Regions from separate parts of the Homo sapiens genome. Here region 1 is linked to region 2. Evidence: fine-mapped expression QTL. A gene starts in region 2. The other region holds a variant in brackets. All regions are shown on one strand. Distances are between the middles of the regions.

Region 1 (13,760 bases), 32 kb after region 2:
GAGATCGGGGGTTCGAGACCAGCCTGACCAACATGGTAAAACCCCGTCTCTACTAAAAATACAAAATTAATCAGGCATGGTGGCATGTGCCTGTAATCCCAGCTACTCGGGTGACTGAGGCAGGAGAATCACTTGAATCCAGGAGGTGGAGGCTGTGGTGGGCCAAGATCAAGCCATTGCACTCCAGCCTGGGCAACAAGAGCGAAACTCCGTCTCAAAAAAAAAAAAAAAAAAAAAAAAAAAAAATTAGCCGGGTGTGGTGGTGGGCACCTGCAATCCCAGCTACTCTGGAGGCTGAGGTGGGAGAATTACTTGAACTCGGGAGCCGGAGGCTGTAGTGAACTGAGATCATGTCACTGCACTCTAGCTGGGCCAACAGAGACCCTGTATCAAAAAAAAAAAATTCCACAAAGGAAGCAAACTGTGAGAACAGAGTTTGAAGCATATGTGCCTCGGGTTCCCTTCAAACATCCCCACAGACAAAGGACACCAAGCATATCATCCTGCTGAGAGAAAGAGTTGGCGATTTTAAAACAAAAAGGCACAGGAAAAAAAAATGTTCACACACAGAAACTGCATTAAAGCAGCGTGAATCACCGAGGGCAGCTGTGCCCAGGTGCTGAGGCAGTGGCTGCCCAGCGTCCCTCACCCGTCCCTCTTTGTCTGGACAGCTCTTTCCTGCTTAGGGGATGTGGCAGGAAACCTTGGCCTGACCCATCGGCCAGGCGCATGGCACACCCAGGTCCAGGACTGCCAGGGAAGTCTCTGCCTTCTCCACCAGACTGCTCCGGAGGCTGGACGGAAGCCCGGGCCGATGGAAATGGGACACTCACCTGCGACTCACACATGCACCTGCCTGGGTCACCTGCCTGTCACTCATCCACGCACCTACCTGCCTGGCTCACCTGCCTGTCACTCAAGCACTCACCTACCTGCCTGGCTCACCTGCCTGTCACTCACGCACATCCCTGCCGAGAGTGGAACTGCTAAGGAGGTCAGCGGTGCCAGGCCGTGCAGATGACGGACTGCAAGTTCCGGGCACCCAGACCCAACCACGCCCTAGGCTCAGGTGCTAGACTAAGCGAGATACTCACGATCCTTTCTTCGGAAGCCAGATTACACAGTCTGGTTCCCCTGGAGCAGGGCGCGGGGCCACCGACCTGCCCCAGCCAAGCCCGCTGTACACTCTTCGCTGCCCACCTCCCACCGGGCTGAGGCCCGACCTTTCAGCCGCTTCCTATCTGGGTCTGGCAAGAGGATGGCAACCGGACTAGAGTTAAATACACACGCACTAAGTGGCAGGCACTGAAAAGGACGCCAGGAGGTGACACCTGGCCAGGGGCTGAAAGGATGCAGGGAACTGGCAGGTGTGGATGGCGAGGCCCGGCGCCGCTTAGAGACTTGTTCCGGGCTCGTGTCTCACTCGCCGGCCGGCGGTGGTCTCCCACTGTCACCGCCCGGGTTTCCCAGAAACGCTGGCCCTAAGCACAGTCCCGGGCACGCTCGTTTCTCTCGGGGTTTACGGGGCAGTCTGGAGTCTAACAGTTCAGGGGCGAGGCGACGGCGGGCTCGACGGCAGCCCTCCCCCGACACAGACTCCCGTGATCCACTGACGAACCAGGATCGAGGCTGCCCGTCCTGGGGCAGCTGCAAGTGTCCCAGCTGACGGGAAACCCGGCCGAGTGGTCAAGTCCCCGACATGACCCTGACCCGGAGCTCCGGGAGCCCGCCGTAACCGACCTCGGGTTCCGCGCAGGCAGGCTCGGGCCGGGGCCCCGCGGGCGGCGGGCGCGAACGGAGAAGCGTCGCGCAGGGTCCCCAGCAGCCCCGGGCCGCCGCTGTGGCCGGCTCCGGCAGGGGGGACGAGCGGGCCCGAGGACCCGGCGCAGGCCTGCGAGCGCGCTCACCTCTCCCTGTCGCTGCGCGTGGGCCGCCGCCGCGCTCAGGCTCGCCGTAGTCGAGGCCGGAGCAGGGTGCGGAAAAGCGGGGCCCGCGCCCGAAACAGCCGCACCGCCCCGGGATTGGGCCCACCGAACCCGCCGCAGCGCCGCCGCCGCCGCCTCAGCCTCCAAGATGGCCGCTCGCGGGGCGGAACCAGCCTAGCTTCTGCTTCCGGTGCGCGGTCCGGGGCGGTGAGGAGGGAGGGGGAGGGCTGGCCGCTCTAGGCAGACTGGCGGACCGCGCCCACGACTCTCTGTCGCCGTCGACCCCGGGGTGGGGGATGGGGCGGGGGGCGGGGCGGCGCTTGCGCACTGGCGGGCGGCTCCGGGCACCGTTAGTGGGCGCGAGAGCCCCAGACCCCGAAGCCGCGCGCTTCCCTCCCCATGTGCCACGGCCCAGGGCGGCAGGCCCGGCTGAGGGCGACCCCGGTGGAGAAAGAACCCCGACCCTCCCGCCTCCCGGCTCCCGCCTTGTCCTCCGCTCCCACGCCCCACCCGGCCCTTAGGGGAGGCGCGGCGCGGCCCGGGCATGGAGCGTCCCGGGCCCCTGGAGGCTCAGTGGAGGGTTGGGCTCCAGGGAGCTCAGAGCTCTCTCGTTCAGGGACCCGAGAGTGACACGCGTGGCATCTCTTTGCAACCCACGTCCGCGCCGCAGCACCCTCCCCTGCAGGTGCCTGCCCAGCCCCGGGATGCCCCTGACCTCCCCTTGGACAGACTGCAGAAAGCGCGGGGCGCTGCGTCCTCTCCACCTCTCTCTGACCCCAGACACATTGGGAGAGAGCGGTAGGTGGCGGGGCGCTGGGGTGGGACGCTGGGGGCAGGCGCGCAGCCCACCGCCTCCCTGAGAGGCCGCTGAGGACAGCGGGGAGCTGAGGGTGGTCCCCTGGTGGGGGATCAGGAGGTGGACCTCGCCACCTGGCTGCCTGTGGCCCTCTCCTTTGCCCCAACCCTGACTGCCTCTCAGGAACAACCACAGGTCAGCAAGGTGGCTGAATATTGAGGGTCAGTCCCGCTGTGGCTACGGGCAGAGGGCAGGCTGTGTCCATGCTCAGCCCTGACTCTGGCCCTCTGGGACACCTTGGTGGGTCTGAGACGTTGCTGCAGGCCGTGGGGCAGAAGCCAGGAGGAGTGTCCACGCAGCCTCAGCCCGTGGGAATCCAGCCTGCCTCCATTACTGCCGTCACCGGCTCCACCTTCGGAGAACATCTCAGCATCCAGCCTCCTTCCTCTGCCTCCTCTCAGGCCTCTGCCGTTCCCATGCAGGGCAGGCCAAACTGTTTTCACAGCATGGAAAGTTATGTGAGGGAAGCCACACCGGCCGCAGATACAGGCACCAGCACATCCACTCGCATGCACACTCACGGCTGTGGCCCGCGGCAGATGGAGGCCCGCTCTGCCTTGTCTGTCCCTCAGTAGTGTGCGATGACAGCACACCTGTGGGGGCCCTGCAGCTGGGAAGACTGCAGCGAGGCTCAACTCAGAGGCCCCTGCTCAGGAGCATGGCTGAGTCACACCCCAGGGAGAAGGTGCCCCGGACAGGTGTGGCCAGCACGTCTTGCCAAGACCCCACCACCCCACCCACCCGCATCTGTGGCCTTCTGGTAAGCAGGACACAGGCTGCCCAGGCCTCTAGCCATAGAGCCGATGGCCTTGGCCAGTGGGATCGGCACAAGCAGCTAGGTTGGTGGCAGATGGTGGCTGTAACCTTCTCAACCCTGAGATTGCCCTCTGAGGGCAGGAGCAGCCCTTCTGCTGTGGGCCAGCCCTCCGGAGGGACTTCCTCTGGCAGCTTCAGGAATAGGACAACAGGGACCACCCTCAGCATCTTGAGCAGCGGGGGGCACCCTCTGCTTTGGCAACCAAGAAAACATCCCCCAACCCAGTTACCACCTCCTGCCCCCACCTCCTCCAGCCCCCAGGGTTGGACCAGAAAGCCTTGGCTGCCTCTGAACAGCAGGGATTGTCTGGCCAGGGGATGCTTGAGGGACAGAGAACCCAGCCTGGAGGGTGCAAACTGAGGAAGGTCTCAGTCCCTTTAGAAAGTTTGTTTTGCCAAGGTTAAGGACACACCCATGACATCTCGGGAGGTGCCCAAGGTGCATGTGGCACAGCTCGCTTTTATACATTTTAGGGAGACATGATTTATTTACACGGGTTCAATCTGAAAGAGCAGGATAAATTGGGGTGGTGTGGGGAGACCTCTATGTTATAGGCAGATTCAAAATGATCCTGACCGACAGTGGTTGAAAGAGTTATTATCAATAGAAAGGAATGTCTGGGTTGCAGTAAGGGGTTGTGGTTTTCCACGCAGCTGAAGCCTCGGGTTGCCGGCTTCAGAGAGAATAGATTGTTAATGTTTCCTATCAGACTTAAGGCCTGTGTTGATGTTAATGCTAGTCAGCTTTTCCTGAATTTCAAAAGGGAGGAGGCATGACCCACGACCCCTTCCCGCCATGGCCTGAACAAGTTCCCAGGTTAACACTGGAACGCCCTTGGCTGAGAGGAAGGGTCCATTTGGACGGCTGGGGGGGCCTTAGAATTTAATTTTTGGTTTACATTCACCCCCTTCTGGCCAAGATTTGCCAGAGGCAACATCCATGTCCACCAAATCTTTATTGTGTCTCAGCGTTGCTGGGCGAGTGTGGCTGCCCACCCTCAGTCAATCCTGTCCCTCAGTTTGACTCCCTATGACCCAGGGACTTACAGTTAAAAGATTTACAGCCCATTAAATTTTGTAGGCCAGATAGGAATGGACATGGACCAGCATTCATTACCTCTTAAAACAATTTTTTTTTTTAAAGTTGGAGTCTCACTCTGTCGCCCAGGCTGGAGTACAGTGGCATGATCTCGGCTCACTGCAACCTCCGCCTCCCAGGTTCCATTGAGTCTCCTGCCCCAGCCTCCTGAGCAGCTGGAACTACAGGCATGCACCACCATGCCTGGCTAATTTTTATATTTTTGTAGAGACAGGGTTTCACCATGTTGGCCAGGCTGGTCTTGAACTCCTGACCTCAAGTGATCCGCCCTCCTTGGCCTCCCAAAGTGTTGGGATTGCAGGCATGAGCCACCACACCCGATCTATCATGTAACATTTTTATAAATTCCTTTTTTACCAAAGGTATTGCAGCTTACACAGACCGTTCACGACATGTGGACTTTCTAGTTTGTGCTGAACATCCCTTTTTTTAAACAACCAGTCATTTATTTAAGGACAAAAATTTACCATACAAGATTCTTTCTCATATAAAATTATTTTTTTTAACCTTACTTAACAAAAAGACCTCTTTATATCTATAACTTTCCTTGGTCTCTCTTATTTCCTTGTTCTTTTTAACTCATTTTATACATAAACTTTAAATAAGCTTTGAATTAGACAAAATTATTTACCTTATAATAAGAATTTTTGTAGAAAGAACGTTTTCCTATAATTTTTTTTTTTTTAGATGGAGTCTCACTCTGTCGCCCAGGCTGGAGTGCGATGGTGCAATCTCGGCTCACTGCAACCTCCCCCTCCCAGGTCCAAGTGATTCTCCGGCCTCAGCTTCCCAAGTAGCTGGGATTACAGGCATGTGCTACCACACCTGGCTAATTTTTGTATTTTTCAGTAGAGACGGGGTTTTGCCATGTTGGCCAGGCTGGTCTCCAATTCCTGATCTCAGGTGATCTACCTGCCTCGGCCTCCCAAAGTTCTGGGATTACAGGTGTGAGTCCCCATGCCTGGCCTTCAGCTGGGTTTAGAGTTTTACAATGCTTATGCCAAGTTTTGACCCCTTATAAATCAATAAATGCAAACAAAAATGTATGCTGACAGTTTTTAAGACACTCCTTATATTACTTTACCAATACTTTTGGCCGGGCACGGTGGCTCACGCCTGTAATCCCAGCACTTTGGGAGGCCGAGGCAGGTACATCACGAGGTCAGGAGATGGAGACCGTCCTGGCTAACATGGTGAAACCCCGTCTCTACTAAAATATACAAAAAATTAGCCGGGCGTGGTAGCGGGCGCCTGTAGTCCCAGCTACTCGGGAGGCTGAGGCAGGAGAATGGCCTGAACCCAGAAGGCAGAGCTTGCAGTGAGCCCAGATCGCACCACCGCACTCCAGCCTGGGGGACAGAGCGAGACTCCGTCTCAAAAAAAAAAAAATTTTTTACTTAAGTCACATGAAATTTGTTATTATGTACTAAATGTATGCATACTCCTTAAGCCACTTTGATACCTTGTGGCCACAAAACATGTATCAGAATCCACGCACGTACACATAAACACATCTAAACACACATATACACTCATCCAAAAACCCTACAGCTTTTGCTTTACACCTCTAACCATGACATATCAACACAAAGTCACTAGTTAGAAAAACAATAACAGAAAGAAACATCTAGATGCAAACTGTGGATGTCATCTCAGTAGAAAAGTAACAGCTGGTCAGGCACGGTGGCTCACAACTGTAATCCCAGCACTTTGGGAGGCCAAGGTGAGTGGATTGCCTCAGGCCAGGAGTTCAAGACCAGCCTGGCCAACATGGTGAAACCACGTCTCTACTAAATTTACAAAAACTAGCCAGGCGTGGTGGCGCACACCTGTAATCCTGGCTACTTGGAAGGCTGAGGCAGGAGAATCGTTTGAACCCAGGAGGCAGAGTTTGCAGTGCGCCGAGATCGCACCCCTGCACTCTAGCCTGGGCAACACAGTGAGACTCTACCTAAAAAAAACAAAAAGTGTAACAGCAGCTTTAAGGCAGGCAGCAAAGGAAACAGAGAGATAGAGAACTTAGGAACTCTATAGTTCTTTTTTTTTTTTTTTTTTGAAACAGAGTTTTGTTCTTGCAGCCCTGGCTGGGGTGCAATGGCACGATCTCAGCTCACTGCAACCTCCGCCTTCTAGATTCAAGCTATTCTCCTGCCTAAGCCTCCCAAGTAGCTGGGATTACAGGTGCATGCCACCACGCTCGGCTCATTTTTGTATTTTTAGTAGTGATGGGGTTTCACTCTGTCGGTCAGGCTGGTCTCGAACTCCTGACCTCAGGTGATCCGCCCGCCTTGGCCTCCAAAAGTGCTGGGATTACAGGCGTGAGCCACTGCGCCTGGCCAGGAACTCTATGGTTCTGTAGTTGCAGGCTGACCTTTGGGCTCTGAATTTTTCCTGGATGGAATTTGCCCATCAGTTTAAAATGTGCCCCAAAAGACCATAATATGGAACCAGCTGGGGCACTAGGAAACCCAGCATGCCCGCGACATGTTCAGTTTTATACCAACACTTGCAGGTAGAGGCGCCTGAAACCAGCGGGGTGCCTGGAAGGAGGTCGCCCTCTTGTCTTTGCTGAGGCTTACATTATTTATTTCCCACTTTTTTTTTTCTTGAAAGGAACCGAGCTGTGGCCTGGGGTTCCATGGAGCAGGTGGGGCGCGGAGGAACTGAGCTGTGGCCTGGGGTTCCGTGGAGCAGGTTGAGTATGGAGGAACTGGGGTTCCGTGGAGCAGGTGGGGCGCAGAGGAACCGAGCTGTGGAATGGGGTTCCGTGGAGCAGGTTGAGTGTGCCGGTCGTGGACGGGTCGTGGGCGGGACTCCCCAGTGTGTCACCACTGAGGCATCTTCGCCCTCTTACGTGTCTCTGTTTCTCTCTCTAGAAGTCCAACACCTCCGAGAGGACTCAAAACACAGAGTGACCAGCTCCTATGTGCATTTCCTGGACAAACCTTTTTTTTTTTTTTTTTTTTGAGACGGAGTCTCGCTCTGTCGCCCAGGCTGGAGTGCAGTGGCACGATCTCGGCTCACTGCAAGCTCTGCCTCCCGGGTTCACGCCATTCTCCCGCCTCAGCCTCCCAAGTAGCTGGGACTACAGGCTCCCGCCACAATGCCCGGCTAATTTTTTGTGTTTTTAGCAGAGACGAGGTTTCACCGTGTTAGCCAGGATGGTCTCGATCACCTGACCTCGTGATCCACCCGCCTCGGCCTCCCAAAGTGCTGGGATTACAGGCGTGAGCCACTGCACCCAGCAGACAAACCTTTTTAAACTAATTGTGTTGGGGGGTTCCCTGTGGGGCTGCTGCACGTCGTGGGGGATCAGCCCACGAGATACTCCCACTTGGCTCACAGTCACCCAGGGGCGCCTTTCAGCTGGGAGGAGCAAAATGCCTTTCTTTCTGGAGCTGAGAAAACTCAGTCTCTCATTTATCTATGCAAAGAACAATTCAGTTCCTCATGCAAATGCACGCACAAGCCAGTTGGGCTTAATTTTGGGAGAAAAAGCAACAGAGAAGACCCTTAGGAACGCACGTCCGAGCTAGAAACCAAATGGGGTACCCAAAAGGGAGTCGTTCTCCTTGTCTTAAGAAAAAGGTGGCCGGGCGCAGTGGTTCACACCCGTAATCTCAGCACTTTGGGAGGCCGAGGCAGGCGGATCACCAGGTCAAGAGATCAAGACCAGCCTGGCCAATATGGTGAAACCCCATCTCTACTAAAAAAATATACAAAAATTAGGCTGGGCGCAGTGGCTTATGCCTGTAATCCCAGCACTTTGGGAGGCCGAGGTGGGCGGATCACGAGGTCAGGAGATCGAGACCATCCTGGCTAACACGGTGAAACCCCGTCTCTACTAAAAATACAGAAAATTAGCCAGACGTGGTGGCGGGCGCCTGTAGTCCCAGGTACTCAGGAGGCTGAGGCAGGAGAATGGCGTGAACCCGGGGGGCGGAGCCTGCAGTGAGCCGAGATCGCGCCACTGCCCTCCAGCCTGGGCGACAGCGAGACTCCATCTCAATAAATAAAAAAAAAAAAGAGTTGTTATCAGTAGAAGGGAATGTCTGGTTACAGTATGGCGTTGTGCAGATGAAGGTCTTATCGCAGATGAAGCCACCAGGTCACAAGCCTCAGAGAGAATCAACTATAAATGCTTCTCATCAGACTCAAGGCCTGAGGTGATGCTGATGCTGTGCCTGAATTCCAGCAGGGAGGAGGCATGAGGTGCGTCCGACTCCCTTCCCATCACAGCTGAGCTAGTTTTTCAGGTTAACTTTGGAATGCCCATGGCTAAGACCAGGGGTCCATCCAGACAGTTCAGGGCTTATAATTTTATTTTTGGTTTATGAGGGAACCTAGAAGGCAGCCCACACGCACCTTACTCCTCCCAGCAGGGGACACCGGCCAGACCCCAAGCTCCACACTCCCACCCTCAGCACCCACCCAGGCCAGCAGCCGGGGGCACCTTGGTGCCACCTTAGTGCCTGTTCTGCGGAGGCTCCACTGGACAGTGCAGTTGATGCCCGGGGCCGAGGGGGCTCTGCCTGGGAGGCTGTTCACCTGCCTGGGTGCAGGACCCCAGAGGGACCCCAGGCCACCCCTGGCCTGCCCATGCCCACGGGAATCCCGACCTTGGGCTGCCTGTCTATTGCACCAGAACCGTCCCAGGGCTGACTCAGAGTGACCCTGAGTGGGGGACGCTCACCCCAGGGGAGGAAACGGGGCTCTGGGATAGGAGGTCCTGGCTGGGGTCCCACA[G/C]ATGCCAGGCGCCTGCCATCTCCAGGGCAGTGCTGTCACAGAAGACAACACCGCTCCCTCGTTACCTGTGGCCCGGCCACCTCAGCGGCCCAAGGAGGTGAGCTCACAGCCATGCTCGGTCAATGGGGCCTGGCCGTCTTTCCTGGGAGAGAGCAGAGGCATGGGCCCAAAGGGAGCCAGGGATGCCTGCCCGTCCCTTCTCTCATTCAGGCTCACCTGGTCATGGTGCAGTGACCACAGGACCCCCACATGCCGGGAGCTGGGTTCGCCCCACCCCACCCCCTGCACCGGGCCAGCGAGGGGATGGCCCAGAAGAGGGGGAGGACCATGTGGATTCACCAGTGCTGGACATGTGCTCTGTGGCTACCCCCTCTGCCTACTCTCTGGCCCGATACAGGGGTGTGGGACAGGTGACTGAACCTCAGCCCTTAGAGGCCTTGCCCGGGAGGAGGGGAGGGGGGTGGAGCCGGGAGCTGCGTGATCCAGCCGAGATGTGCTCTGACTGAGGCCCTGCAGGGCATACGGGTCATGGAAGGGGTGCTCTGCCCCCGGCCAGGGCTCCCCCTCCTACAGGAAGCCGGGGGCCTTGCTCCTGCAAGCTGCCCTTTGGCTGGACCGGGCCCCACTGGCCGGACCTGGGCTCTTTCTCTCTCTGCACCCTGCACCAAGGCTGGGCTGTCTGCCAGGCCACTCCCGGGGACACAGGGAGGCACAGGCTGCTTCCAGCCACAATCTCTGGCAAGCACCTAGGACCTTGTCCCCGCCTGCCAAGTAGCCGCCCGGGCCATGTGTGCCCTGTCTCCTCGGCAGGTGCGGCCCACGCACAAAGCTGCCCAGATGTGGTGGGGGAGAAGCCCCAGGCCTGTGCTGTGTCCGGGGGCCCTGCCGCTGACCTGTGGGGTCTCTGTGACATCAGCAAGCCCCCTGCCGCGAGCTTGGAGAGGCACCCCAGCCCCATCTGGCACTCAAGGAAATCAGCTCAGAGAGGTTGAGTAACTCGGGAAGGCCACACAGCCAGTGACGAAGCTGTGATTCACACAGGCCTGGGTGACTCCAGCATGGCTTTCCTCTCCAGGACGTCACCGGTGGCAGCTGCTTCCTTCCAGAGCCGGCAGGCAGGTGACCTCACCCTCCTCAGAGCCATGGCTCTGCTGCTGGACCCTGTGGGGCTGGGCTCCCCCAGCCAAGCCCAGGGACCCAGCACCACTTGGGGCAGGATGTCAGGAACACAGAGCCTACCCTTCCAACCTGGGCCCGGCTCGGGTCTGGTCATTTGGGACAGTGAGGCCACCTGGATATCTAGGGTCCCACAGTAGACAGGGATGGGGTGGTCCTGGGGGACAGGGACACCTGCCTTCCACACAACCGCACTGGGGCTGAAGACGCCAGCCTGGGAGACTGTGATTTGGACCCTGACAGTAGCATGTGGTCTTAGCATGTGTGAGGTCTTAGCGTGTGTGGTCTTAGTGTGTGTGAGGTCGTAGCGTGTGTGAGGTATTAGCATACGTGTGTGGTCTTAGCATGTGTGGGGTCTTAGTGTGTTGTGAATCACTTTCTTTTTTTTTTTTTTGAGACGGAGTCTTGCTCTGTCGCCCAGGCTGGAGTGCAGTGGCACGATCTCGGCTCACTGCAAGCTCCGCCTCCTGGGTTCACACCATTCTCCTGCCTCAGCCTCCCCAGTAGCTGGGACTACAGGTGCCTGCCACCGCGCCCACCTAATTTTTTGTATTTTTAGTAGAGACGGGGTTTCACCGTGTTAGGCAGGATGGTCTCAAACTCCTGACCTTGTGATCCGCCCGCCTCGGCCTCCCAAAGTGCTGAGATTACAGGCGTGAGCCACCGCGCCTGGTGGTCGTGAGTCACTTCCATGTGTGCCAGCATCTTGGTGTGTGTGGTGTGGGTGTGGACTGAAAGTCTTAGTGTGTGGCGCGTCATCTTAGTGTGTGGTGTGGTTGGTGGCAGCTATAGTGTCCAGCAGGGAGGGCGAGCCCCTGTGCCTACTCGGGGGAGCAGGTGCCTTCTCCACACCCAGACCCTTGGTGTTCCCACATTAGCACCTGTCCCAATGGCTGGGCGGCTGGTCCCGAGAGACACTGGATCTGGGAGCTGAGGTCCCCACCCAGTGTCTGTCAGCCAGGGAAGGGAGGGAGTGCTGGGAGCCCACCACGGCCCCGGATCTGAGTTCCAGGAGCTGGCAGAGAAAGATGGGGCTTCTGGGCCGGGCACGGTGGCTCACGCCTGTAATCCTAGCACTTCGGGAGGCTAAGGCGGGCGGATCACCTGAGGTTGGGAGTTTGAGACCAGCCTGAGCAGCATGGAGAAACCCCATCTCTACTAAAAATACAAAATTAGCCTGGGATGGTGGCAGGTGCCCGTAATCCCAGCTACTCAGGAGGCTGAAGCAGGAGAATTGCTTCAACTCGGGAGGTGGAGCTTGCAGTGAGCCTAGATCGTGCCATTGCACTCCAACCTGGGCAACAAGAGTGAGACTCCATCTCAAGAAAAGAAAGAAAGAAAGATGGGGCTTCCAAGGAGGTCTCAGCCCAACACTGTCCTCCCCCTCCCTCCACAGGCTGCAGCCCCTTACTCTCAGCCAGGGTCAGGACCCCAGGCCTCCCCTGCAGGGCTCAGGATGGGAAAGATTTCACCTGCAGAGGGATGGGCATCTCTGTCCCCCAGGAATTCCCCTTTTGGGTCCGGGGCAGGTGTGGCTGCCCTGGCTGGGTCCTCCCTCGCCTGCAGCACAGTCCCACGCCCAGCCAGCCTGTTTTAAATAGGAGGCCAGAGGCTCCATCCTGCTTCAGAGCTGCCAGCTGCCCCCGCAATGGCTGAGCACCGAAGCATGGACGGGAGAATGGAAGCAGCCACACGGGGGGGCTCTCACCTCCAGGTACCGTGGGGGGGGGTGAGGGGGGTGGGGGGGTTGGGTGAGGGGGGTGGGGTCGGGGGGGGGGTTGAGTGAGGGGGGTGGGGGGGTTGGGGGGGTTGGGTGAGGGGGTTGGGGGGGTTGGATGAGGGGGTTGGGGTTGGGGGGCCCCACCTCAAGGTACCAAGGTGGTGGTTGGGGTTGGGGGGACCCGCCTCGAGGTACCGTGGGGGGATTGGGGTGGGGGGTAGGGGTGGGGGGGTGGGGCTGGCGGGGGGGCTCCCACCTTGAGGTACCAGGGGCTGGGTTGGGGGGTCTCTTTCCGATGCCTGGCCCCGTGTGCCATCAGGAACAGGATTGCATGGTGGCAATGGGGCAGGTCATCCCTGAGTGCCTCCTTATCCTGAAGAAGGCTGTGTCCCATTGCGGGTACATAGTGTGTGCTGGACCACTGGGGGTGCCGAGCGTGTGCTGGACCACGGGGGGTGCACAGCGTGTGCTGGACCACGGGGGGTGCCGAGCGTGTGCTGGACCACGGGGGGTGCCGAGCGTGTGCTGGACCACTGGGGGTGCACAGTGTGTGCTGGACCATTGGGGGTGCATAGCGTGTGCTGGACAGACCCCGGGAGAACACTGCAGATACTGCGTGTCCAGGCGCTGTGCATCCCGTGGGTTGGCCACATGGCACGACGCAGATCCAGACAGGGTGGAGAGGCCAGTGTAGTCCTGTCTCACACACACGCGCACATGCAGGGTGGGGTCCGGCTCCTCTCTGACCAGGGGTCCAGGCCCTGCCTCACTCAGAAGCCCTGGGGACCCTGACTGGCCCTCCAGACCCCAATCCACAGCTCCCGCTTCTGCTGGCCTGGCAGCCCCCACTAGGGGGATGGTGCTGCCCTGTCTATGCGCCAGGTGGAGACGAGGAGTGGGGACTGGAGTCACAAAGACCCTTCCGAGCCTCTTAGCCTCCCTGCTCAGATGGCCTTGGGGACGCAGGGTGAGCAGAGCCATGTGCCCAGTGGTGGAGCTCCTGGCCAGGCTGCCTGGAGGCCTGTGCGGCCCACACACCCGAGGGGAGCCGTCCCCACCTGGTGTCCCCAGGCCCCGAAGCTTCTGGCTCGCTCTAGCACCTCCCCAGAGTACCTCGGAGCAGGCTTGGGCAGCGGGACAGCCTCGCAGACCAGAGCTAGGCCTGTCCCAGGACTCCAGAGCCTCCAGCGCGGGACTGGGCAGGCAGTGGCTGGGCTTCCTGGGGCCCTTGTGTCTCCGCAGCTGGCCCCGGTACTCAGCTCAATGGGGCCACCCCGAGCCACAGTGCCGAGCGGTGTCCAGGCCAGACGCTTCCTGGACTTGGCTGGATGGGCCTGGCACAGTCGGTCCTCAGCAGGCCACACTGGGGGCTGGGGTGGGTGCAGCCATCAGGGGCAAGAAGGGCAAGTCTTCCCCTGAGCC
Region 2 (15,159 bases):
CCCTGGGCTTACTCCAGAGAGGCTGGCAGGCAGTCCGAGGGGCCTTTGGAGCAGACACCCTCCCAGCTGCAGGGCGGCAGGGGCGGCAGGGGTGACAGAGGCGGGGAGAAGGATGCGAAGACAAGATGCCAAAGCTGGGCCTCCAGCGCCTGCCTGTCCTGGCTGCAGCCCCAGGGTCCACACCCAGGCGCCCCCAGGGGCCAGGCCAGGGCAGCCGCATCTCCTACGTACCCCAACAGTGGGGCCCTTGAGGCACCGGGGACGGATGGGCAATGGTGTCCACACCTGACAGGCGGGGCCGGAGCGGGGCCCAGCCTCCTCCTCACAGCCAGGAGCCCCCAGCCCTGCCTCCCCTGGCTCCTGCTGCCCCCTCAGGGTGGCTGCCGCACCTGGCCCCAAGAGGACTTCCTGGCTGCCCTGAGCTCCCGTCCGCATTTCTGTCCATTCAAGACCAGGACAGCACCAGGGCTGGGAATACTGGCTCCGACCCAGCCGAGGCAGCCCCGGGGCAGGGTGGGTCAGGCAGGTCCAGCGCTGGGACTCTAGGGAAGGGCTGGTCCTGTGAGCAGACGAGCTGGAGGGTTGGTGGGGGGAGTGTCCCCGCACCGGGCATGGCCCCTCCCAGGATGGCAGGGAGCCCACGGCAGGAGTGTCCGATGCCCCCAGCCCCGGCCAGGCAGCAGGGTCGGCCTGCGGTTCTGGGAAGTCAGCCCTGGTGGAGGTCACGGAGAAGCCGGCAGCTCCCTGCCGCTCAGGGCATGGGGTCAAGGGTCAGGGGTCAGGGGTCGGGTTGAGGCCGTCCGGCACGTAGCCGGCTGCTCTGGCTTTGCTCCTGCCAGGGTCCACGAAGCTGCCAGACGCTTGGGACACTCAATACCCCAGCTCCCAAACCGGGGGGCACAGGCCTGAAGAGATCCGTTTCCCTGGGCTCCCCAGGTCCCCCAGCCAGCCCAGACCCCAAGCAACAGCAGCTCTGGCTGGCCTGCACCTGCCCCGGGGACCCCACGCTCCGGCTGGGTGAGTGACAGGCATCTCCCACCCTCGTCAAGAGTCCAGGGTCCCTTCTATGGCAAACATTGCAGTGTGGGTCCAGCCCAGGAGGTGAGGCTGAGAGAGAATGAAGGGGTGCAGCTGGGCTGGGCCAGAGGATGGAGCCTTGGCTGGGTGGGCTGGGAGCCTGGACCCTCCTGTGAGGCCGCCCACCCCACCCCGACCTGTCCATTCCTTTGCTCCTGGGTGCCCAGAGGGGGCTAGAGATGGCACATTCCAGGGGAATTGCGGCTAAGTGGCTGATCACCTCCCACTGGGGCAGAAACCAGGAGGCAGAGGCCAGGGAGGTGGTGCCAGCACCAGGACATCCCCACGCCCCCCATTCACCCTGGCCCCAGCCCCCCCCATTCACCCTGGCCCCCATGCCAGCCCCCAGCCACCCCCGACCAGCCCCCATCCCCCACCTCATTCACCCCGGCCGTGGTCCCTGCCCCAGCCCCCGCCGCCCCCATTCACCCGGGCCCTGGCCCCCAACTCATTCAGCCCCGGCCCCCCGCCCCACCACTCCACGTCTCTTTGTCTCTCATCACCATCTTGCTCTACGCGGCCCTGGGTCCCATTTCTGGCATGTCCATCTGTCATCACAGCTCCTACCTCCGGGACTGGGTAGGGTGGGGGACTGGCTGCTGCTGAAGAACCTAGAGGGCCCCCATTCCCGGATGGTGAGGCCCCAGGCGGTGTTCAGAAAGGCCTGGCTGGGTGCTGCCTGATCCTGGGTGCCTGCCCCCAGCCCGTTCTTGCCCAGGGTTGGCCCGTCAGTTTGGGGAGGAGCCACTGAAAACTGGAAGCAAACAGGGGAGTCCGCAGCCCAGGGCTCACGCCAACCAGGAAGGTGCAGGCCACGCTCCTGCCTCTGCCTCCTCAGGGCCCCCACACTGCTGTCCCCGCTGACCCAGCTCCAGGAGGGCCCGGCACAACCTTGGTTCCCCCTGTACAGATGCACAGCTGCCCGACTCTCTGGAAGGGAGCACTCTTGAGTGCTGTGGCCAAGCAGGGCAGGGGCTGCAGAAGGGAGACCCCCCGTTCCAGATCCAGGCCCCAGGGGGCAGGCCGTGCCCACAGAAGGGGTGCTGAGGGCAGAGAGGAGCCCCTAAGCCGGGGCCACAGCCTTGGCAAGTGAAGCAGAGGCCCCTCCAGACAGCCCCAGCCCCTGACGCCACTCTGGGGGGCCCAGGGAGAGAGGTGGGGACGGGTCACCACCCAAGCCCACCTCGTGCCGATTGGCGCCTGCCCACACACCTCGTCGCAGGGCTGGGCTGTCCCGCCTCACTGCCCAGCAAGCCTTGGGGAGGGCCCCTTCTGTGCCAGCCCCGGCAGCTCCAGGTCCCAGGGGAGGGGTAACAGCCGTGGGCTCTGGCCTCTTCCAACCTCCCCAACCCCACCAGCGACTAAGGGCTCTGGATGCCAACCAGAGATGGCATCTCCGCAGCTCAGCAGAGGCCTGGACGTCCTGAGGCCAGTTTACACTCTTTGGTGTGGGTTTGCCAGAGCCAAAATGGGGTGGGGGTGGGGCCCAAATCCACAGGACCTGCCAGGGAGCAGCAGCATGATGGTCACATATGGGGCCCACCCCACCCTCCATGGGGCAGTTCTGGCCCCTAAGGCCCCCGAGAGGCCCTGGTCATTAGAGTGCGGCCATACCGAGAGCAGGCGAGGAGAAGCCTGCTGGTTCCAGCCCTGCTCCACCTGGGTGCCCCGGGCACGGCACGGTCTGGGCGCACCTGAGCCCGCAGGGGTGCCTTTCAGCTCCACACGCCTGCGGCGGCCAGCACATGCAAGCACGCGGTCCCGTGTGTGGCATGCACGTCCTCTTGCCCTGCACAGAGCCCCCCACAGGACGCAGGCCTCCCGAGGGCCCAGAACAGTGCTGCTCTCCAACCTCTGGGGCTTCCAGTGCCCCACGGCCTGCTGCTCCCCCAAGGCTGGACAGGCCGTGGGCAGAGCTGAGTGGGGCCGGCACGGACAGTGGTCCTTGTCCTCAGGGTCGACGTGGCCCCTGCAGGGGCTACCAGGGCAGCGCCCAGCCTCTTGCCATCACCATAATCCCGGGCCAGGTAAGTCGGCCCCGAGGGAGGCTCTACGGCCCATACCCCAAGCTACCGGGCTCCCCTGTGAACAGCACCCTTCTGCCCCCACCCATCTCCCGCCGACCTCGGCAGCCTGGCTTCCACCCCCAGTGAAACATCCAGGCAGCACTCGAAGGCAGTGGGGAGGGTGGAGGGCTCTTTATTGTGGTGACCACGGGCATCAGTAGGAGGGTCCCCGGGATCCGGCGGCAGCTCCTCGCCAGCCCCCCTGGGCGCCCTCACGTGCCCAGGAGCAGCCCGGAGAAGCTGGAGCCCGCCTGGATGGTGAGGACGGCCCCGGAGCCATTGTCCACAAACACAGAAGCGTACTGTCCAGCCTGTAAGAAGCACGGGGACGTCACAACCGCAGCCACAGCCCAGCCACTCGGTGGCCAACGTCTGCCCACCTGCCCTGCGCTAGGAGGTGCCGAGGCCCCAGAGGTCTGCGCCCTGAGTGCACCGAGCTCACACCCGGCCCAGCCCGAGTGCACCCGAGCCCTCCCGCTCACACCCGGCCCGGACTCACCTGCAGCTGCAGCAGCCCCTGCACCTGTAGCGTGAAGACCCTGCTGTTGCTCTCCAGGCCTGAGACGGCCTCCAGGCACCTGAACACAGCCCCACAGGGCAAGAGGGAGGCGTTGCAGGTCCAGGGGGCCAAGACCTGCTCCAGTGCCCAGAGACCCCTGTGGCCTGTGAGCCCCTCCAAGGGTGGTCCGGGGGCTGCCGCCTGGAGCGGGGGCTGAGGTCACTCACGTGTGGCGCTGGCACAGGGACTCAATACAGATGAGAACACACACCACGTCCCGGGCCCGCAGCCGGGCCTTGCCCTGCAGCTCACTGTGGTCTGCGGAGAGAGCCCTGGGGAGGGTGGTGCATGGGGGGCGGGGTGGGGGCTGGTGGGGAGGGGCTTCAGGGCACACATCCCAGGACAGGCCCAGGAGTGGCTGCTGGGGCTGGGGAGGGGGCGCCTGAGGCCAGGCGTGCAGCAGGGACCCCATGCCCAGTCCAAGGCCCCCCATGGGGCAGGGGATAGGTCCCTAACAGGACCCGCACCCGGGGCCGGCGATGCCAGGCGCCCCCAGAAAGCTCAGCCCCAGCCCCGTCACAGCACACGGCACTGCCCCATCCGGCTCACCCACGTGCAGACTGGCAGAGAACTGGAAGATGCCGGACACGGGGGCCGTGAACCGACCCGAGGCCAGGCTCAGACCGGAGCCTCGCAGGAAGGCACCTTGGGCAGCAGGCTGTGAGGGGCAGTGGGTGAGCGGCCAGCGCAGGGCCTGGCCCCCACCCCACAGACCCCGCCTGGGGAAGGTGCCTGCAACCGACAGCCCCTCACTCGGAGCAGCTCTCCCGGGACCCTCACGCTCACTGTGGGCACCAGCAGGACTGACCCTCGAGTCCACACCCAGGAGGGTCTCCCTGCCTCCCGGCTACCGGGGACCCACGCTCCGTCTGGGCATAAAGTGTGATCTGGGCCCCCAGGGCCTCCCAACCCTGACCCGAGGCAGCCCCTCGCCCTCCGAGCCCCGCCCCCAGCCCCCAACCCACATGCTGCCCCATGAGTGTCAGGCGGTGTGTGTGGTCCCGTCTTGCCTGTGGGGCCCCACCCAACACCCCGCTCTAAGCTCCCGGCTCCACTCACAGCCTGGAAACCATGCAGCTCCACCAGCGTCCGCTTGTCCACCCGGCGGGGACCCTGCAGCCGGCAGTGAAAGGCCTCGCCCACCAGCCGCAGGCCCGCCCCCTGGGGCAGCAGCGGGTCCAGAAGCCCTGAGAACCGGCGCTCCGTGGCCTCTGTGGGGAGGAGGGCACAGGCGGCCAGCAGGGTCAGCACAGGGCCCAGGCACGTCTGGTCTCTGGGCAGTGCAGGGCGGCTGACCTTTCAGCAGCTCCTGAAACTCGTGAAGCAGAGTCTCCGCGGTCACTTCTGCACCTGGAGGTCCTGGGGGACCGAAGAGATCCCGCTGGGGGGAGAGAGAAGCAGGTGAGGGGCCCAGTGGGACCCGGTGGGAGCTACCACCACACCCTGTCCGGGGCTCAGACCCTGCAGCAGCCCGGGCGGGGCTCACCGGCTTCTTGTCCCTGCTTCCGCACCGCTTCCTTAAGGCGCCGTCGTCCGGCCGCCGGACAAAGTTCAGCCATGTCATGTGGGCGTCGGAGAACTCAGGTCCTGAGGCCTGGGATGGCTGAAGGGACGGGACGGGGCTAGCGCACTGAGGCTGCACCCTGCAGAGAGCTGGGACCCCAGGGCAGCGGGGAGCACTCAGGGCAGAACCAGGGAAGGCATCGCCGGCCAGGAGAAGGACCCACGGCCGCCCTTGGGGGAGTCAGAACCCTGACGTCCCAATGCCACCAGCAGGGCAGGCATGCGGGGCTTCTGTGGACACAGCCAGAGCCTGATGCCCTGAGCCCCTCACTCCTCCCCCACTCCTCCCCCTCCTCCCCCCACTCCTCATCCCACTCCTTCCCCCACTCATCTCCCTCCTCCCCCACTCCTCATCCCACTCCTTCCCCCACTCATCTCCCTCCTCCCCCCACTCCTCATCCCACTCCTTCCCCCACTCATCTCCCTCCTCTCCCCTCCTTTCCCACCTCCCCCTCCTCCTCCTCTTCCCCCTCTTCCCCCCACTCCTCCCCATTCCTCTCCCCTCCTCCCCCACTCCTTCCCCCACTCATCTCCCTCCTCCCCCACTCCTCTGCCCTCCTCTCCCACTCCTCCCCCTCCTCCCCCCACTCCTCATCCCCCTCCTCCCCCACTCCCCCCTCCTCCCCCTACTCCTCATCCCACTCCTTCCCCCCACTCCTCATCCCACTCCTTCCCCCACTCATCTCCCTCCTCCCCCACTCCCCCTCCTCCCCCACTTTTCACCCTCCTCCCCCCACTCTTCCCCCTCCTCCCCGCACTCTTCTCCCCTCCTCCCCCACACCTCTCCCCTCCTCCCCCCACCCTACCCTCTCCTCCCCCCATTCCTCCCCCACTCCTCAGGCATCCGCTATCCGCTTGCTGTCCTGTTGACCACCACCGCAATGTGCTGAAGGGACCCGGCGCCCTGGAGGGGCCTGTACCTCAGCCTATCTGGGGGCTGAGAGCCAGAGGCAACAGAGAGCAGGCTGCAGGAGAACCGCCCAACCCTGGAAGCCTGGAGGGCCAGCCTGAGCACACACCTCACAGCCCTCCAGCCGGCACCCTTTGAGGGAGGCCCGCCACCCTGCAGGGTCTCTGGAGGAGTGGCCCTGGGCAGTGGGGTGCCCCCTCCCTTCCAGGGGGACTGGCCCGGACTGCTGAAGACCCCCCCACTGCCCCGCCCCTGCCAGCACTGCCAGCCTGGCCCTAGCGCCGGGAACCAGCCCACTCTTCCTGAGCTGGCAGAGCCGCGGCCTCAACCCTCCTCAGCCTTCCCATCTGGGAAACGGGACCTCGGGCTCCAGCGGGGCCGCGTGGGCTGAGAGGCAGCCGGGCTGGCTGCAGCAGAGACGCCCTCGGGAGGAGGGAGACCAGCATCAAAGGTGTGAGGGCCGGGGATGGGGGCTGCTCTGGCAACTGCGGCTCCCCTCCCAGTCCTGGGGCCCACGACGGCGGCAGCAAGACCTGCCCTCCAAGACCCCTGGAGAGACCCTGAGCAGGAGAGAGGAAGCCCAGGGTTGAGGTGGGCTTGGGGCCTTCTGTCTTTGTGAGGACGCCCGGCCTGACTGGGGCCCCAGGACTTAACCCGCAAGAGGGGGTGCTAGCTACACAGGACCCCCAGAAAGCACAAGGGACAGGCTCGCCATGGCGTCTCCAGCCGCAGGAGTCATGGGGCGCTGGACTCCCAAGGGGTCTGGTGAACCATCCAGCAAGCAGCCGGAACCACCCCACCCCCGCCCCCAAATCAGCAATTAACCTAATAGCAACAGGTTCCTCAGAGCGCGGCAGGCCCACGCTTCAAAGGGTTAACTGCGGCCCCCAACCGCGGGAAGCCCCCTTCACCCACCCACCCCAGGCCAGCTGGGGGCCAGGTCTCCGCTGCAGAGGAGGAGAGGGCTTCCCAGAGGCCGGCCTGGCTGGGCTGCAGCAGATTCTCAAGGCGGGACCGTGGCCGAGGCCTCGAAAAGGGCGACCCGGAGGCAGAGCCGGCAGGGACAGAGCCTGCTGGGGGAGGACGCCCCAGAGCCCCAGCTCCGAAGCTGCCCCGCGAGGGCCCACGTGCGTCCCGGCCGCGTACCTTGGGGGCCTCGGGCAGCCCCTCGCGGGAGGACGCGCTGGCGGTGGCGTTGGGGGGATCTGCGCGCTGGCCAGGCTGCTGCGTCCTCTGTGCCTCCCGCCGGGCCCCGACGCCCCCGAGGAGCACGAGCTGCGGCCCGAGGAGGACCACGACCGCGGCCCAGGCCCAGCGCCGCATGGCTCCGTCCCGAGGCGGCTCAGCGCGGCGAGTCTCGGCGCCAGGGCGCAGTCATGGGGACGGCCGGCGCTCAGAGCCCCCGCGCGGGGGCGAGGCCCAGGGGCGCGCCCGGCCTCCGCCGCTGCATGTCTGCGCGGACCTGCCCGGAACGGCGGCGCGACGGCGCTCAGGTCCCCCCGGGGTCCCGCTCCAGCCCCCGCTCCCAGCCCCCGTCCTCTCTGGCCTCCTCACTCCGCCGCCCAGTAAATCCTCCCCTCGCCTCCTCCTCCCCAGACCTCGCAGGCTCCAGGGTGGGGGCTCACACTCGGACGATCAGCCAGCCGCCCGGGCGCCCCGACGGCCAGGGACGGAGACGGGGCGGAGACCCCCACTGACCCCGGCCGCTGCTTCTTGCCTCCCGTCCCCAGACCCCACCCTGCCCCCATTGCTTCCCCAAAGGTCCACCTCATTCTGGGAACCGTGAAGACAGCAGCCTACCTCCTCGCCCTCCCTGCCAGCTGAACTCAACCTGGCTCCCCTCACAGCAGCCTCTGCAGCCAGCCACCGGAGGGCAGCTACCAGCCAGCCAAAGCCCCAGCCCCTTCCCACGACCTCCTCACCCAGGCTCCCCCGGGTGCCCCGCCCTGACTCACGGCCCCGGCCCAGGGTCCTGGGGGTGCTGGCCGGCCTCGCTGGGGCCCCACTCGGGGGAAAGGTGAGGCCAGATCATGGCGACAGGCCCCTTGGGCTCAGTGGCTGGAGGAATGGGGTGGCCAGGTGGGGCTGGAAGACCCTCCAGCCGCTGGTCCTGGCCGAGGCTAACAGTGGCCCAAGGTCAACATGCCGGCCCTGATGGACAGCTCGGAACACTCCAGACCCTCCCCTCTTGCCAGACACGAAGGTAGCCACGCCGAGACCCCAGCGTCAACCCCAGCCCCAGGCCACATCCACAGGCAGAGCCACGGGAGACCAGGCTGGGATGGGGATGACGCTTGGGAACCCACCAGGGACCCCGGCTGCCCCCTCGCCCTCCGGGCTCTCAGGCACTGACTGGCATCTCCAGAGAGCACTGTGGAAGCCTCCCGGCCCCGTGTCCGCTCGTGAAGGTGGTGGAGGACCCTGGGGACACGGCACAGCGCCCACACAGTACCAGCCCTGCTGGACCCCCGCAGGTGAGCCCTGGATGTGGCCTGCATCTAGCATGGGTCGGGAAAGGCAGCCCCAACACCCCTCAATCCAGGCTTGGGGCAAAGGGAGGGGTGGGCAGGTGCCCTGGCCAAGGAGACCCCCCGCCCAGGGCTACCAGACCCCTCCTCACAGGCAGGGCATCCAAATTTTCTCTGTCACCCACTGGCAATGAGCTCCCCTGTGACTCTAGACAGAACAGGCTGGATCTCCAACTCTGACCTACAGGCAGGAAAGTGGGCAGCCCTGGGAGGCTGGACTGAGGGAGGCTGGACTTCCCACTCAGGCCTACACGCAGGAAAATGGGCAGCCCTGGGAGGCTGGACCGAGGGAGGCTGGGCCTCCCACTCCACCCTACAGGCCAGGACACGGGCAGCCCTGGGAGGCTAGACCGAGGGAGGCTGGGCCTCCCATCTACCCTACAGGCCGGGACACAGGCAGCCCTGGGAGGCTGTACCGAGGGAGGCTGGGCCTCCCCCTCTGCCCTACAGGCAGGAAAACGGGCAGCCCTGGGAGGCTGGACCAAGGGAGGCTGGACTTCCCACTCTACCCTACAGGCAGGAAAACAGGCAGCCCTGGGAGGCTGGACCGAGGGAGGCTGGGCCTCCCACTCTGCCCTATAGGCCGGGACACAGGCAGCCCTGGGAGGCTAGACCGAGGGAGGCTGGGCCTCCCACTCTGCCCTACAGGCAGGAAAACGGGCAGCCCTGGGAGGCTGGACCAAGGGAGGCTGGACTTCCCAATCTACCCTACAGGCAGGAAAACAGGCAGCCCTGGGAGGCTGGACCGAGGGAGGCTGGGCCTCCCACTCTGCCCTACAGGCCGGGACACAGGCAGCCCTGGGAGGCTGGAGCAAGGGAGGCTGGGCCTCCCACTCCGCCCTACAGGCCGGGACACGGGCAGCCCTGGGAGGCTAGACCGAGGGAGGCTGGGCCTCCCACTCTGCCCTACAGGCAGGAAAACGGGCAGCCCTGGGAGGCTGGACCGAGGGAGGCTGGACTTCCCACTCTACCCTACAGGCAGGAAAACGGGCAGCCCTGGGAGGCTGGAGCGAGGGAGGCTGGGCCTCCCACTCCGCCCTACAGGCCGGGACACGGGCAGCCCTGGGAGGCTGGAGCGAGGGAGGCTGGGCCTCCCACTCCGCCCTACAGGCCGGGACACGGGCAGCCCTGGGAGGCTGGAGCGAGGGAGGCTGGGCCTCCCACTCCGCCCTACAGGCCGGGACACGGGCAGCCCTGGGAGGCTGGACCGAGGGAGGCTGGGCCTCCCACTCCGCCCTACAGGCCGGGACACGGGCAGCCCTGGGAGGCTGGACCGAGGGAGGCTGGGCCTCCCACTCCGCCCTACAGGCCGGGACACGGGCAGCCCTGGGAGGCTGGACCGAGGGAGGCTGGGCCTCCCACTCCGCCCTACAGGCCGGGACACGGGCAGCCCTGGGAGGCTGGACCGAGGGAGGCTGGGCCTCCCACTCCGCCCTACAGGCCGGGACACGGGCAGCCCTGGGAGGCTGGACCGAGGGAGGCTGGGCCTCCCACTCCGCCCTACAGGCCGGGACACGGGCAGCCCTGGGAGGCTGGACCGAGGGAGGCTGGGCCTCCCACTCCGCCCTACAGGCCGGGACACGGGCAGCCCTGGGAGGCTGGACCGAGGGAGGCTGGGCCTCCCACTCCGCCCTACAGGCCGGGACACGGGCAGCCCTGGGAGGCTGGACCGAGGGAGGCTGGGCCTCCCACTCCGCCCTACAGGCCGGGACACGGGCAGCCCTGGGAGGCTAGACCGAGGGAGGCTGGGCCTCCCCCTCTGCCCTACAGGCAGGAAAACGGGCAGCCCTGGTGTAGAGGGCAGCCCTACAGGGTTTGTGGGTTTTTCTCCCCGTGTGCGGAGATGAGAGATCGTAGAAATAAAGATACAACACAAAGAAATAAAAAAGACAGCTGGGCCCGGGGGACCACTACCACCAAGATGTGGAGACCGGTAGTGGCCCCGAATGCCAGGCTGCGCTGTTATTTATTGGATACAAGACAAAGGGGCAGGATAAGGAGCGTGAGCCATCTCCAGTGATAGGTAAAGTCACGTGGGTCACGTGTCCACTGGACGGGGGCCCTTCCCTGTTTGGCAGCCAAGGCAGGGGCCAGGGAGAGAGAGAGACAGCTTACGCCATTATTTCTGCTTATCAGAGACTTTTAGTACTTTCACTAATTTTGCTACTGTTATCTAAAAGGCAAAGCCAGGTGTACAGGATGGAACGTGAAGGCGGACTAGGAGTGTGACCGCTGAAGCACAGCATCATAGGGAGACGGTTAGGCCTTCGGATAACTGTGGGTGGGCCTGACCCTCCACAAGAGGTGGAGGAGTAGAGTCTTCTCTAAACTCCCCCGGGGAAAGGGAGACTCCCCTTCCCAGTCTGCTAAGTAGCGGGTGTTTTCCCTTGACACTGACGCTACCGCTAGACCACGGTCTGCTTAGGTCACGGGTGCCTTCCCAGGCGCTGGCGTTACTGCTAGACCAAGGAGCCCTCTGGTGGCCCTGTCCGGGCGTAACGGAAGGCTCGCACTCTTGTCTTCTGGTCACTTCTCACCATGTCCCCTCAGCTCCTATCTCGGTATGGCCTGGTTTTTCCTAGATTATGATTATAGAGCGAGGATTATTATAATATTGGAATAAAGAATAATTACTACAAACTAATGATTAGTGACACATATGGTCTATACCAAGTATAACTCTTATTTTATATATTTTGTTACACTGGGACAGCTTGTGCCCTCGGTCTCTTCCCTCGGCACCTGGGTGACTTGCTGCCCTCACCCTGGGAGGCTGGGCCTAACTGGGAAGGATGTGGCTTCGTGTTCCCAACCCCAGGCACCTTTAAAATGAGCTGAGCCTGGCACCCAGGCAGGAACACTCAGCCCCCATGCTCCCTCTAGAAGACGACCAAGAGGACCCCACCCTCTGGGTCACCCACCAAGGATCCAGGGTACCCTGGGCCACAGCCACGAGCTGCTCACAAGGGGAGGCTCAGGTGCAGCTGCTGGCTCTGCTCACCCCCTGCACCCCCCAACGCAGACACCCTGACACCCCCCGGCCCTGGAAAAATGGCAAAGGACCACGGTGCCCTGCCCAGCCGCCTGCTGCAGGGAGAGCAGCTCCCTCAGACCCGGAGTGCTCTGCTGTGCCGGCTGGTTCATCAGCACTCAGGCAGGCCTGGGCATGCGCTCACAGAGAAGCTCGAGGTTGCCAGAACACAGGAAACGCCTCTTCTTTCCTGTGACCACGAGGCCACGTGCTCACCTGTCTGCAGAATATCAACTTTTAAGGGGCTTTTCTCTCCTCATTAAAAGACTTCACAGTGTGCTCTGCATGGCGAGGGGACACACCGTGCTCCCAGGGGGAAGTCAAGGACGGCCTCCACCGGTGACAACACAAGAACAGAGGGGCCCACGATTCCTCTAAGGGAGACGGGGACAGAGGGTCAGACGTGCCCGGCCCAACAGGCCAAACATCATTTTTTTTTTTTTTTTAGACAGAGTCTCACTCTGTCAGCCAGGCTGGAGAGCAGTGGCACGATCTTGGCTCACTGCAACCTCCACCTCCTGGACTCGAGTGATTCTCCTGCCTCAGCCTCCTGAGTAGCTGGGATTACAAGCACATGCCACCATGCCCGGCTAATTTTGTATTTTCAGTAGAGACAGGGTTTCACCATGTTGGCCAGGCTGGTCTCGAACTCCTGACCTCAGGTAATCTGCCCACCTCAGCCTCCCAAAGCGCTGGGATTACAGGAGTGAGCCACCACGCCCGGCCCAAACATCATTTTTTATTTTGGGCCAGTGCGGACAACATGCCACGGGCACCACCTTCACTGCTTGACCGATGATCGCTAAAAGTTGAGATTTCAGTTGGGCGTGGTGGCTCACGCCTGTAATCCCAGCACTTTGGGAGGCTGAGGCAAGCAGATCACGAGGTCAGGAGTTTCAGACCAGCCTGGCCAATATGGTGAAACCCCGTCTCTACTTAAAATTAGCTGGGTGTGGTGGCAGGCACCTGTAATCCCAGCTACTTGGGAGGCTGAGGCAGGAGAATCACTTGAACCCAGGAGGCAGAGGTCACAGTGAGCAGAGATCACGCCACTGTACTCCAGCCTGGGCGACAGAGCAAGACTCCGTCTCAAAAAAAAAAAAAAAGTTGAGATTTTAGTCGGGCGCGGTGGCTCACGCCTGTGATCCTAACACTTTGGGAGGCCGAGGCAGGTGGATCCCTTGAGCTCAGGAGTTCAAGACCAGCCTGCGCAACATGACGAAACTCCATCTCTACAAAAAATACAAAAATTAGCCAGGCATGGTGGCGCACACTTGCGGTCCCAGATATGTAGGGGGCTGAGTTTGGAGGATCCCTTGAGCCCAGGAGGTCACCGTTACATGTGGGCGGCAAGCCACCCAGGTGCCGAGGCAAGAGACCGAGGGCATGAGCTGTTCCAGTGTAATAAAGAAAATATACACAATAAGAATAGTTACACTAGAAATAGATTATAGATGTGATGATATATGAATATTCTTAATCATTAGTTTCTAGCATTACTCTTCATTCCAATATTATAATAATCTCTGTTCTACAACTATAACCTAGGAAAAACCAGGCCATACAGAGATAGGAGCTGAGGGGACATAGTGAGAAGTGACCAGGAGACAAGAGTGTGAGCCCTCTGTCACGCCCGGACAGGGCCACCAGAGGGGTCCCTGGTCTAGCGGTAGCGCTAGCGCCTGGCAAGGCACCAGTTACTTAGCAGACGGGGAAAGGGAGTCTCCTTTTCCCCGGGGGAGTTAGAGAAGACTCTGCTCCACCATCTCTTGTGCAAGGCGACATCAGTCAGGCCCACCCGCAGCCATCCAGAGGCCCGTCTCCCCGTGATGCTGTGCTTCAGCGGTCACACTCCTGGTCTGCTTTCGTGGTCCGCCCTGTACACCGGGCTCCGCCTTCTAGATAGCAGTAGCACAATGAGTGAAAGTACTAAAAGTCTTTGAAATACATAGAAGAAAGAATGGTGTAAGCTGTCCTCTCTCTCTCTCCGCCTCGGCTGCCAAACAGGGAAGGGCCCCCTGTCCAGTGGACACGAGACACACGTGACCTTACCTATCATTAGAGATGGCTCACGCTCCTTACCCTGCCCCCTTGCCTTGTATCCAATAAATAACAGCGCAGCCAGGCATTCGGGGCCACTACCGGCCTCCACATCTAGGTGGTAGTGGTCCCCCGGGCCCAGCTGTCTTTTCTTCTATCCCTGTCTTGTGTCTTTATTTCTATGATCTCACATCTCTCCGTACACAAGAAGAACCCACAGGCCCAGTAGGGCTGGACCCTGCAGTTACAGGGAGCCATGATAGCACCATTGCACTCCACACTGGGCAACAACAGAGCAAGACTTTGTCTCCAAAAAACAAAAAAACAAAGTTGAGATTTCACATCTAGACGACATTTGAGACAGGGTCTGGCTTCGCTGCCCAGGCTGGATTGCGGTGGCTCCATCATGGCTCACTGTAGCCTCCACCTGCCGGGCTCAGGCAATCCTCCCACCTCAGCCTCCTGAGTAGCTGGGACCAAAGGTGCACATCACCACACCAGGTAGTGTTTTGTATTTTTTGTGAGATGGGGTCTCACTACATTGCCCAGGCTGGGTTCAAGAGATCCACCCCTCAGCCTCCCAAAGTGCTGGGATTATAGGCGGCAGCCACTGCACCCGGCAGTAGCGTGTTGAGTAAACACTCTATTCGTTAGCATTCCCCCTCCCATGAGCCTCGGGAGACACCGGGCTTTGGAAGTGATGCTGGCGGTCACAGAAGCGGAGATCAGGGCAGGGCTGGCATCCAGTACGGGATGGGGAGAGAGCCCTGCAGAGGGCTCTACACCATGGCTCCAGCGACGCGATTCCCTGTGGGGACCCACCTGCCCTGCAGCTGCCACACCACCCCAGGCCAGCAGGTGTGACCCCCTGGTCACGGGCCACCCCAGCCCTGAGCACAGAGATGGACACACATCCCGGCCCACACAGACACAAGCAGCATGAAATTCAGAAATAAAGATATAATGAAAGACCTTTTTTTTCCACAAGAATAGGTTAAATACATACAATTGGTAAATTATAGAGCAATTCTGAATAAACTGATCAAAAAACGAAGAAAGATGAGCGCGTGCGGGCTGGGCTTGTCTCACGCCCGCCTCCGGACAGGGTGGGTTTCTTGCCGGCGGCCGTGCCCCACCTCGACGCGATGCACCTGCGGTACATCCCACCCAGGCGAAGTCACGGAACAGACGCAGAAGAGGGGAGACGGCCGAGACCCGGGGAGCCACGCGGCCCGAAACAGCCCCTGCTGGCTCTGGCGTCTTTCCGGGCCGGGGTGCCCCTCTGCCATGTTCCGTGGACAGCGAACACCCGGGCCGGAGCCATTACCTACTGTGAAGGCCAGCGCAGGGGGCACGGGATGTGAGGGAGGCCCCCGAGTGCACGG

What was found. PIP is the estimated chance that this variant, and not a neighbour inherited with it, causes the effect.
Region 1: its variant is fine-mapped to the expression of C1QTNF12 in whole blood (TOPMed, PIP 0.95).

The regions. Positions count from the first base shown.
Region 1 is chr1:1,271,759-1,285,518 of GRCh38, forward strand. It overlaps SCNN1D (sodium channel epithelial 1 subunit delta), which reads left to right and starts at 8,678. Exons shown (of 18, transcript NM_001130413.4): 1 at 8,678-8,908; 2 at 9,468-9,539; 3 at 9,653-9,852; 4 at 10,484-10,557; 5 at 12,220-12,332. The coding sequence starts at 8,904. LINC01786 (long intergenic non-protein coding RNA 1786) reads left to right here and starts at 2,244. Exons shown (of 3, transcript NR_185846.1): 1 at 2,244-2,723; 2 at 3,045-3,541; 3 at 7,310-8,849. It overlaps UBE2J2 (ubiquitin conjugating enzyme E2 J2), which reads right to left and starts at 2,096. Exons shown (of 7, transcript NM_058167.3): 1 at 1,908-2,096. RefSeq lists enhancers at 228-736, 737-1,243, 1,244-1,751, 2,942-3,580 and silencers at 1,941-2,520, 2,681-2,730, 11,402-11,602. The variant G/C (reference allele first, on the strand shown) is at 9,443.
Region 2 is chr1:1,239,193-1,254,351 of GRCh38, forward strand. C1QTNF12 (C1q and TNF related 12) reads right to left here and starts at 7,530. Exons shown (of 8, transcript NM_001014980.3): 1 at 7,322-7,530; 2 at 5,189-5,305; 3 at 4,999-5,083; 4 at 4,762-4,913; 5 at 4,252-4,360; 6 at 3,870-3,960; 7 at 3,643-3,721; 8 at 3,261-3,454. The coding sequence starts at 7,498. The coding sequence ends at 3,356. UBE2J2 (ubiquitin conjugating enzyme E2 J2) reads right to left here. Exons shown (of 7, transcript NM_058167.3): 7 at 14,720-15,159. RefSeq lists enhancers at 7,473-8,254, 8,255-9,035, 11,962-12,241.